3 linked regions of the Homo sapiens genome follow. The protein of the gene in region 3 purifies or fractionates together with the protein of the main gene of each other region. This does not show direct contact. Each region holds a gene or a part of one and is shown on either strand. Other genes may lie near its edges. The genes, in order: STRN, MOB4 and SNX24.

The links.
Region 1: the proteins of SNX24 (region 3) and STRN purify together in Homo sapiens (affinity purification with mass spectrometry; 2 studies listed by BioGRID and IntAct, with this or other methods). This does not show direct contact.
Region 2: the proteins of SNX24 (region 3) and MOB4 purify together in Homo sapiens (affinity purification with mass spectrometry; 2 studies listed by BioGRID and IntAct, with this or other methods). This does not show direct contact.

Annotation. Positions count from the first base shown.
Region 1 is NC_000002.12:36,855,013-36,858,748, forward strand, and holds part of STRN (striatin), read right to left. Parts: intron 3,012-3,736; coding exon 2,844-3,011; intron 341-2,843; coding exon 200-340; intron 1-199. UniProt on the Homo sapiens protein: Calmodulin-binding scaffolding protein which is the center of the striatin-interacting phosphatase and kinase (STRIPAK) complexes.
Region 2 is NC_000002.12:197,536,418-197,540,153, forward strand, and holds part of MOB4 (MOB-like protein phocein), read left to right. Parts: intron 1-3,693; coding exon 3,694-3,736. Other genes in the region: HSPE1-MOB4 protein, read left to right, coding at 3,694-3,736.
Region 3 is NC_000005.10:123,002,613-123,006,112, reverse strand, and holds part of SNX24 (sorting nexin-24), read right to left. Parts: intron 1-3,500. UniProt on the Homo sapiens protein: May be involved in several stages of intracellular trafficking.

The sequences.
Region 1 (3,736 bases), on a different chromosome or scaffold from region 3:
AGTATAGTTATAAATGTACATAAACTTAACCCAAATTCTTAAAAGGTAAATAATTACAACCTTCTAAGTAACTGTGTTCTGAAAGTTAAGAGACAGAAAGCTTTATAATGACAAATATTTTTCACAGCTGACTCTAGTAGTCGTAATTTTGATTAAGTTAAAAAAATAAACACAGACAATTTAAAATTGGTATGCATACTTGTATCTACATTGGATTCTAAAGTGAGAATGCGTTGTTGTGTTTCCATGTTAAAAATGCTTGTATATCCCTTGCTGAATGATGCTACCATATGGCTCGGGTCACTGCTCACTAGATCCACAGAGGCAGGGATTCCCAGTTCTGAAAGAGAACATATTGAAATAGAATGGCAATTAAACCATCTACTTGACAATCTGCTTAAAATAGAGCAAAACAAAAAATGGCATGGTTTCCTTAAGAAGTAAACAAGGCTTACCATTAGAATAAGAATTAGCTCATAACTATTCATTGGAGATTATTTCTTTGTAACTTTTAGCCCTAGTCTATTTATTTCCCTTACCTGCTTAGCAGATCTTCTACCTGTTACTCAACTGATATATTCATGGAATGCAAGCCTTTATTTAGAGAGCAAATGGAAAACATGTATGAATTACAAATTTTGCTGCTTCCGCCCAACCTCAAGCTTAGAGTGACATAGTGGGAATTCTTCATTTTAAAAAACCCATCTCTTATTAGGGATGTTAGCTCATCAAAAATAGAGAAATTAAAAAGTAAAATTTAAAATTATTATTTATCGTTAGAGTCATGCAAATACCATATGAAGACAACTCATCAAAGCCTGGAAAGAAGTTATAATAGCTCAAGAATACAGAAGGTATTTTTATTTACCATCTAGAATACATGAAAACTTAGAGCTTATTTATAAACATAAAAATAGAAGGAAACATATAAAGTGAATATAATAATCTGATTTTTTTCATTTGGCTCAAAATCTAACTACAGCAAGGTAACAGTTCAAAAATGTGCATACTGCAGAAGAAGATACACAAATAACCAATAAGCAAACAAAAGAAATGCTCATCAAAATTAGCCATCAAAGAAATGCAAATAAACTATGATGAAATACTACTACACATCCACCAGAATGGCTAAAGTTAAACAGACTGACAATACTGTATGTTTGTAAGGATGCAGAGCAACTGGAATGCTCATACACTGCTGTCAAAGGTGTAAAATGGTACAACTACAAAATTTTTTTGAAAAATTTTTAGTGACTTCACATAAAGTAAAATAAACATCCACCTGAAAGCCCAGCAATTCTAAGTCTCTACACACCTATAATGAAAATATATGAATGTTCATAGCAGCCTTGTTCAAAATAGCAAAAAACTAGAGACAACCCAAATATCCATCAAGATATAAATGAATAGACAAATTATGGCTTAATGAAATACTATCAAATAAAAATGAAAGAAATAATTGATATAACACAAATGAATTTCCAAAACATTATAATGAAGAATAAAAGCAAGATACAAAGAACACATACTTTACTATTCCATTTACATGACGTTTGAGTAGATAAAACTAATCTATGATGAAAGAAATCACAACAGTGGGTACCTCTGGCTGGGAATAAGGAAAGGAGGGGACTGACTTGGAAAGACACGAAGGAACTTTGGGGAGATAAAGGAAATGTTCTATCTCTCATACGGTTTGGATCTGTGTCCTCACTCAAGTCTCATGTCAAACATAATCCCCAATATTGGAGATACGGCCTGGCGGGAGGTGATTGGATCATGGGGTGGATTTTCCCCTTTGGTGCTATTCTCGTGATAGAGTTCTCACAAGATTTGGTTGTTTAAAAATAGGTCCCACCCCCTTCTTCCTCCTGCTCCGGCCATGTAAAACATGCCTCCTGTCCCTTTGACTTCCACCATGATTGTAAATTGCTTGAGGCCTCCCCAGAAGCCAAAGAAAAGTTGCTATGCTTCCTGTACAGAACCGTCAACCAATTAAACCTTTTTTTTTTTTAAACAAATTACCCAGTCTCAGGTATTTCTTTATAGTGGTACGAGAATGGGCAAATATAGTCTTTTTTTTTTTTAAAGAAAATGTAGAGACAGGGCCTCGCTATGTTGCCCAGCTGGTCCCAAATTCCTGGCCTCTCGTGATCCTCCTGCCTCAGCCTCCCAAAGTGCTAGGATTACAGGTGTGAGCCACCACACCTGGATTCTATGTCTTGATTGATGTATGAGTTACATGGGTGTACTCATCTATCAGACTCACTGAAATGTATCCTTAATATCTGTTTTTCACTACATACAAATTATATCTTAATTTTTTAAAATCTAAAATCTGTGTGTTCTTTCACCAAAAACTATGCTTTCAAAAATTATAGGCTGGGTGCAGTGGCTCATGCCTGTAATCCCAGCACTTCGGGAGGCTGAGGCAGGCGAATCACTTGAGGTCAGGAGTTCCAGACCAGCCTGGCCAACACAGCAAAACCCTGTCTCTACTAAAAAAACTACAAAAATTAGCTGAGCGTGGTGGTGTGTGCTGGAGGCTGAGGCAGGAGAATTGCTTGAAACTGGGAGATGGAGGTTGCAGTGAGCCGAGATTGCGCCACTGCACTCCAGCCTGGGCAACAGAGTGATACTCCGTCTCAAAAAAAACAAAACAAAACAAAACAAAACAAAACAAAATTATATATAGGTTGGAAATTCAAACAAATACACTTTCGTGGCTTCAAAAACTTTCAAATTAAATTTAAAGAGTTCAGGGAATCATTTATCTGCTTGCTTATTTTCAGAATAAACTGTTTTATAGAGGATTCAGCAAAATAATTTTTTAAAGTATGTACCTTTAGTATCATTAAATACACTTAGTGCTGGAGCAACCTCAGTTGTATTCCATAAACGCAGAGTGCCATCTGCTGAACAGGACAACAAACGCTGATGTGCTGCACTATAAGCCAAACCCCAGACTGCATCCGTGTGGCCTAGCAGAGGGCCTCGTAAAACAGAAGGATCTATACAAAACAGTAAAAATGCAAAATCAGGAGAAAAACAACCACAAAGGTACTTAGATTTCAGAGAAAGTAAAATATATAAACAATAGCACCTGATAACAGTATAAAATATGATTCTTGGTTTCTATTATTCTTCTGACAGGCTACAGTAAATCAAAACAAGCTTGGAAATATACAAATATAAAGTTAAAAAATTTTAAATTAAAATTTAAAAGCACGTATTTTTCCCCCTTAAAAAAACTGAGTATTTCCTCCCCCTTCCTTTTGTCCTTCCATTTGTCTAAATATTTTTAAAGCACGTTGATACGAAATCATTTGAATTTAATTCATCTTTGGAGAAACCACAACTCACACTCCCTGAGGAAGTGAACAGAGAGGTCCTCTCCCTCTCTGAAGTCCCTTAGCACTTTGGCTATACTTCCTTCTGTTCACTTATCTTACTATATGATGGATGGCAGTTTTTCCTGAAAATATGGCATTCATAATGGACAGGAAGTGACATCTACAGGAATCCCCAAATTCTCAAACAGCAGTAACTGAGATGCAGTGATAGTGTATGCAGGGGAAGAGGGAGGGAAGTGGGGAGGTTAAGCACAGTCTCATGATAAAAGTCAAATTGGAAACCTTATTAATCTTCACAATGATTCTATGAAGTGGTACTTTCAAGATGACTCACAAATGTTAAGTCTGGAAATGTCAATGGTGTTATGTCTTATATCCTCTGT
Region 2 (3,736 bases), on a different chromosome or scaffold from region 3:
TGGTCTCAAACTCCGGGGCTTAAGCAATCCACCCACCTTGGCCTCCCACAGTGCTGGGATTACCACCATGCCAGCCTGGGTTTTATTCTTATTTCATGATTTTCCTTAATTGTATCTCTTAACCGCTAATATAGTATTTCCGTTTCCCCATTTTTGCATAACTGTGTCATCTTTTGTCTTTTTTTTTTTTTTTTTTTTTTTTGAGACAGAGTCTTGCTCTGTTGCCTAGGCTGGAGTGCAGTGGTGTGATCCCGGCTCACCACAACCTCTGCCTCCCGAGTTCAAGTGATTCTTCTGCCTCAGCCTCCCGAGTAGCTGGGACTACAGGCGCAGCCATGCCCAGCTAATTTTTGTATTTTTAGTAGAGATGGGGTTTCACTATGTTGGCCAGGCTGGTCTCGAACTCCTGACCTCATGATCTGCCCGCCTCAGCCTCCCAAAGTGCTGGGATTACAGGTGTGAGCCACCGTGCCTGACTTGTCTTTTTTTTTTCCTTTGTTTCTGTAGAGATGGGGTCTCACTGTGTTGCCCAAGCTGGTCCTGAAATCCTGGGCTCAAGTGATCCTCCCATCTCAGCCTGCCAAAGTGCTGGGATTATACAGGCATGAGCCACTGCACTTGGCCACTTTATGTTTTTGTAGAGGATTACTTCCAGTTCCTAGTCTAGGCTTGGTATCTGATAAGTTACCTGTAAATTATTGCAAACTTCCAGTCTTCTCTTTGGTAAATAGAGATTAATTGTAATCCTGAAGTAAGGAGTTTTGGTGCTTTTTATAATGCCCTTTGAATGAAAAAATTGATAACTAGTGGATAGGTGGAGATAACATTAAAAGTAGATATATTCTGAAGTTACTAGGTGTTTCTTGAAATTATAAATTTTCCAGTGCAAATGGGAGCTGGGATGAGTTGACAGATTATTAATAAATATAGAGAATGCAGTATGTGTTCATTGGGGCTTATTATTTGTAAGTTGATTTTTAGATAAATAGAGTAGAAATATGACTTTTCCTGAATAAATTAGACCATGTTTCCTGTGTTGTGTGCCTCAACTTGTAGACAAGGCACTTTTTAAAAATATTTACTTTTTGATGCTGCATGCTTCTTTAGAAATGGCTAAGACATTATGTCGTGTCATAACAGTTCAGCAATTTCAGGATGCTAAGACTTCTTTGTATCCTTTGCCAGTTTTTAGACAAATTACTTGACTATTTTCTAACTTTTTAATATATATGAATGCACAATAATTCAAAGTACGAGTCTGTAGATATTTTCCCATTTTTACAACCCAAGACAGAGAGCACTTTAGTGTAGTACATCCTTTGCTTTATTTTTATCAGCCTTGAAAATAACTGCTTTCTTATGTTTTTTTTCTTGAGACAAGAGTCTCGAGTCTCGCTTTGTCACCAGGCTGGAGTGCAGTGGTGTGATCTCGGCTCATTGCAACCTCCGCCACATGGGTTCAAGCGATTCTCCTGCCTCAGCCTCCCAAGTAGCTGGGACTACAGGCACACGCCACCATGCCCAGCTAATTTTTGTATTTTTAGTAGAGATGGGGTTTCACCATGTTGGTCAGGATGGTCTTGATCTCCTGACCTCACGATCTGCCCACCTTGGCCTCCCAAAGTGCTGGGATTACAGGCGTGTGCCACCACACTTGGCCGTTTTTTCCATTACAAGCATAATTCCTAACAAATAGGGGCTGATTTTAGTGTTACAAGGGTTTTTTTTTTTTCAGATCTAAGAAAACATTTATCTCCCTATTTAACTTATTCTATGAAACATTATATAAAACATTACATAAAACTTTACATGAAATATTTCTCACAAGTATTTCATTTGTTCTGGTGCTATTTTTACTTTTGTTATTTTTTTCTACTAGCCACTTTTTGGTCTGGGTTGTATATTAACTATCGTATATATTCTTTTATCTCTTTATTGTATTGTGTACATTTTATTAGTTGACCAGGAAGAGGTTTTTTTTTTTTTTTGCATACATCCTTTATTGATTTGAGGCTGTATACTTGCCATTTTTAGTTAATGCAGTTGATTATATAATGATGTTAATTTAGATTGGGTCATGACTTCAGTCATATCTCCCACTAGCTCATATTGAGTCTTAATGATTAGGAAAAAGTACTCCTTTATGTCCGGATACATGCGTGGTGACTGGAATGTAGGCTGGATTCCAGCTCTGGTTGGTCTCTTCAGCTGCACAACTGTGTACATGTTAGCCCTGTATTAAATTAACTTGAAGTTGTGAGTTTTGCATTATTTGCCACAGATTATACCCACAGCCCTGCTGAATCAACTTAATTTTGCTTTTGGCTATAAAAGGGTTGGGTAAGAAACTTACCACAACCAGTCTTTATTACCACTTGGTGGAAAACAACTAAAAAACACATAACATGCAGTCTACTTGATAGGGGACAGTAGAGGGTGATACGGTGATTTAGAAATAATGTTATTTTTGTAATCTAAGGACAGCATTATTAGGCATCTGGAAAGGAAATGCAGTTACAAACAACTGAAAATTTGACCCTTGCCTTTTTGTTTTCCTCTGTTACAATGTGCAGTAAGTAAGTAAATGAAGTTTTTCCACCAAATTTGTTCACATATATCCTGTTTTTTTCTTTTTTGGGGGGATTTTTTTTTGTCTTCTGATTATATAGGTGTTAGCTTTGCATTGTTTTGGGAACCAAAATGATTCAATTTTTCTGATGGGGAAACATAGTATTGATTTATCTAACCTGATACATTGAACTAAATATTAATAGGTAGGACTTTAGGAGGGAACACGTTCAGTGTTTTGACAGCTGTAAAACTACCTTTGTGACATAGAAGATTGTCTTTTTATCAAATAGCTGTCTAAAACTGATGGCCTCAGTGCAATTGTAATGTAATTTTTTTTTTTTTTTTTTTGAGATGGAGCCTTACTCTGTTTCCCAGGCTGGAGTGCAGTAGTGTGATCTTGGCTCACTGCAACCTCCGACTCCCAGGTTCAAGCAGTTCTCCCTCCTCAGCCTCCTGAATAGCTGAGATTGCAGGCACCCGCTATTATGCCCGGCTAATTTTTGTATTTTTGTGGCGATGGAGTTTCACCATTTTGGCCAGGATGGTCTTGAACTCCTGACCTCAAGTGATTCACCTGCCTCGGCCTCCCAAAGTGTTGGGATTACAGGCCTGAGCCACTGCGCCCTGCTGTAATTTCTTTGTATGTTTCTATGTACCAACATTTTATTACCCTCCAGTTGCTGAATTTTTCTACAATTCAGAAATTTTCTCATATGCATATATAGCTCCTGTGAACATCTTTATACATTTATCTGCATGCAGATCTGATTATTTCATTACAATAGATTCTTAGAAGAATGACTTAGTCGAAAAGTATACACTTCCTAAAAGTCTTGGTAAATATTTCCAAATTACTTCCCTGAAAAATTGTACTAATTTCTAGTATATAAGAGAATGATCAGCTCACTTAACTCTGGTATTGAATGTTATGAGGGTTATTGGTTTTCTATTTTTAATCTGTAAGCCTTTAGAAGAAATGTGTCATTGTCAGTTTAGGTGGTTTTGAGAATGGTAATGAGGGAGGAGGGATGATACTGATGGGATTCTCTTTTTGCAGCTAATATTCTAAAAATTGCTGTGAAGAATAGATATGACTTTTTATTTATGTATTTGCATTTTCAGGCAGTTCTGCCTTGAGCTAAATGGACTTGCTGTCAAACTTCAG
Region 3 (3,500 bases):
CTTAATACCTGTGTGACCTTAGGTGAGTTATTGAACATCTCTGTCTCTCTCTTTCCTCAACTGTGAAATGGATTTCATAATAGTATCTACCTTATAGGCTGTTTTAAAAATTGGGGAGACAAGCGAATGAACACACAAACTATATCTTAGAAAATCTCTAATACATGAATATCCAGTTATTTCTGGTTGATGACACTTGATTTTTTTAGTGCATGCCTTTCCCCAACATGAAGTAATGGTTTTTCATGAAATATATCTTTGAAAGCGTGTGATAGGCCTTACACATGTATATTTAGAGCCCAATAAAAAACAATAATTTAGCTAAGTTAATTTTAATTCTAAATGTATTTCTCCCACATAGAAGGATATTAAAATCAATTGCCATAAATAGAGCTGTTAATTTTCTAAAAGATACTCAAATAGGACATATTACATGACGGTGGCAGACATGCCTTTATTCTTTGCCACTCACAATATAGAAGTCGATTTGAAGGTCAGTGAAATTACATTGTAAGTATATTTAGCTTAAAAGGATTCAACTAAATAAGTTAAGCAAAAAAGACATAAAGGAAAATAACATTACATACTATGGGTAACTCTACTGCGCTGGTAACATGTTAAGCAGTGACAAGAACAGGGCAAGGAGAAAAATACAGCAGGGCATGGGCTGGAGAGGGCCCAGAGACAGGGAAGTGAGGGAAGAATTTGAGTGATGGTGCCATTTGGGTGATGACTTGCAGGAAGGAACAAAGCAGCCCGCTGGGAGGGTGTCCGGGAGAAGGGCATTCCTGGCAGAGGGAACAGCAAGTGCTGAGGCTCTGTATGTATGTCCACCAAGAGCTGAACATATGCTAGATGCTGGGGATTTAGAGGACAAAGCCAAAGAACAAAGATAAGATAGTCTGTGACCATTACTATGAAGGAAGCAAATAGGGTTCTCTGACAAAAAGTGAATGGGATGGAGGTGTTTTAAAGCAAGGTCCACCAACTAGCGATCAGAAATAACATAATCAGGGTTTTGGGTTGTTTTCTCATCCGTTCCACTCTACTTTAAACTGTGGATTTTGGCTTCATCATATGCATGATTTACTACAATGTCCATTATTGCCAGCATTACTCAGTAAACTGTCCTTGACTTTGATTCTCATTGAGAGGTGATGAGAAGGAAGGTGATTTAGGGCAGGTTTTGCTGTTATTTTTGTTGGTTTTTGCTTATTTAATGAACATGTATTGTGAATGGGTAGAGGGGCTCGTGGAGAGGGAGAATCAGCACAGGCTCTCTGAAGCCGTGGCATTCAATGTGAGCCCTGGAAGATGAGAGGCAGCCGGCTATGGATGGAGAAAACAAGGCTCACGGTGGAGGAAACAGCACATCTGAGGCCCAGAAAGAATTCCAGGGTGGCTAGGGCAAAGTGTATGAGGAGGTCCAGTAGGAACATGAGCCTGGGGCAGGCCACAGAGGGCCTTGCAAACAAACCACAGGTAAGAGTCTGGAGCTCCCAGGACAGAGTTGAGATGGAGATACAATATTGTGACTCAGGTGTATACACGTGGTAGGCAGGCCACACACAAGGAGATTATCTGAAAGGAAGTGTAGTGAGAAGAGGAGAGGGTCTATGACAGCATTCTGGTCAGCTGCTAGAGAGTGGAAGGAAGTGGGAAAGCCAAGGGGAGACACTGTTTGAAGGAGGAGAAACAGATCAACATGTCTAAAGTCCATGAGAGGCCAAGGAAGATGAGGACTGAAAAATATCCATGGGCTTCAGCCACACTGAAATCACTGGGGACTTTGGCAAGAGTTGTTTTGAGTTTCCCAGGAAAATCAAAACAAAGACCAAAAGGCAAATGCTTTTCAATCTGTTAAGAGAGTACTCTCCTGATTTCTAATGTTAAAAGCTAAGGGATATTTGATTATTAGTATTTTATAAGAGGATAATGCTTAAATGTCAGATCTTTGAAGACAGACACTCCTCTGACTTTGTAGGGGGCGGGGTCAGTACATCTGTGAAGAAATTTCCATACGCAATATCCTCTGGAATAATAACCTTAATATCTTGCTAAGAGGCATCATAACAAAAATGTGATGCAAGTAAAGTTTCTCTTTAAATTAAATGCTAAAGATTTGCAAGAATATATCATTAGTATAACACTTCTAAGATCACAAGAATCTGATTCGTGAAACTGGATTGGTCAAAATTCCAAGAAAACAGATCTGGTGACTGGTCCTTCCATACCTCCCATCCCATCCATCAAACCTGTGATCCATTTATTCTCAAACAGGAGTTCCCTTATTTTGCAAGTCTTCATCCATATTACCATGCTACCAATGATACATACGTTTTACTCTTTCCAATTCAAGACATTTACCCCTGATGTTTCTTCCCAGAAAGTTCCTCCTGTTCTTCACTGTCCAAGCCAGGCATAGAGCACATGGTAGGCACTGCTCAATAAGCTGTATGAATTGGATTTAAAGGTCATAAAATATCTTCCCTCTTCTATCAAGTATCTTGGCTATTCTAGTCCACAGTAACCATTTCACTGTCTACACTTCTGCAGGAATTTCAGTCAGATGCATGACATATCTGAGCATAAACAATACATGGAAAAAGTGCTTGTGGAGCCATTTTTCAAAGATAATAAGAATAATTTATAAAACTATCTATTTAATCTATATTAGATTGCATTATGAATATTTGTTAAATATGATATTTTAACATGACATCAACTAACATGTATATTTGTTAAACATAAGAAGCAAACGTTACAGAGAGAAAGTTATTCTTCACTGCGAGGATCTTATAGGAAAAAGAATATGAGGTCATATTCCTATACAGCAAAGGCAGCTCACTCTGATCGGGGTGCTACTAGGAAGGGTCCCTCAACCCTTCCTAGGGAGGAGCAGGGCTGCGTCCTGGCCACCCTTCTTCAAACTGACAGCTAAGTGGGTGATGTGAGTACGTGTATCCTTGCTATAGAGAGCAGTTCCCTTTCTCCTGCTCATAAGGTTTTATTGTCAGAAACAGGGAGGGTTTCAATGGATTATTTATCTATTACTATTTAGTGACTCCCAGAAACAAGATTCACTATATGCAAAGAGCACAGAAGGAATACATAGGCAACAAGAGGTCCACCCATCAACCATCTGAGAGTGGACAAGTCAGGGACTTCCCTGGACCCCAATTTTCTCATTCAGTCAATGATAATATCTGCCCTGCTTAGTTCACAAGGTTGTTAAGGAAATTAAATGAGATAATGTATGCAAATGAGCTCATAAAGAGATGCATAACAGAACACTTTGAGAGGGACTCTGATGAATTTAAATTTCTTTGCACAGAGAAAAGACTCAGTCGAAAATATTGATTACAATTATACTTAGATCAATTAATTGTATTTAAAATATGCAACTTTTAAAAATATATAGTTTGCCATCAAAGATGCTGCAATGTATATACACATAGTTTCGGGGAAGAGGCTTTTTTTTGAGACGGAGTCTCGCTCTG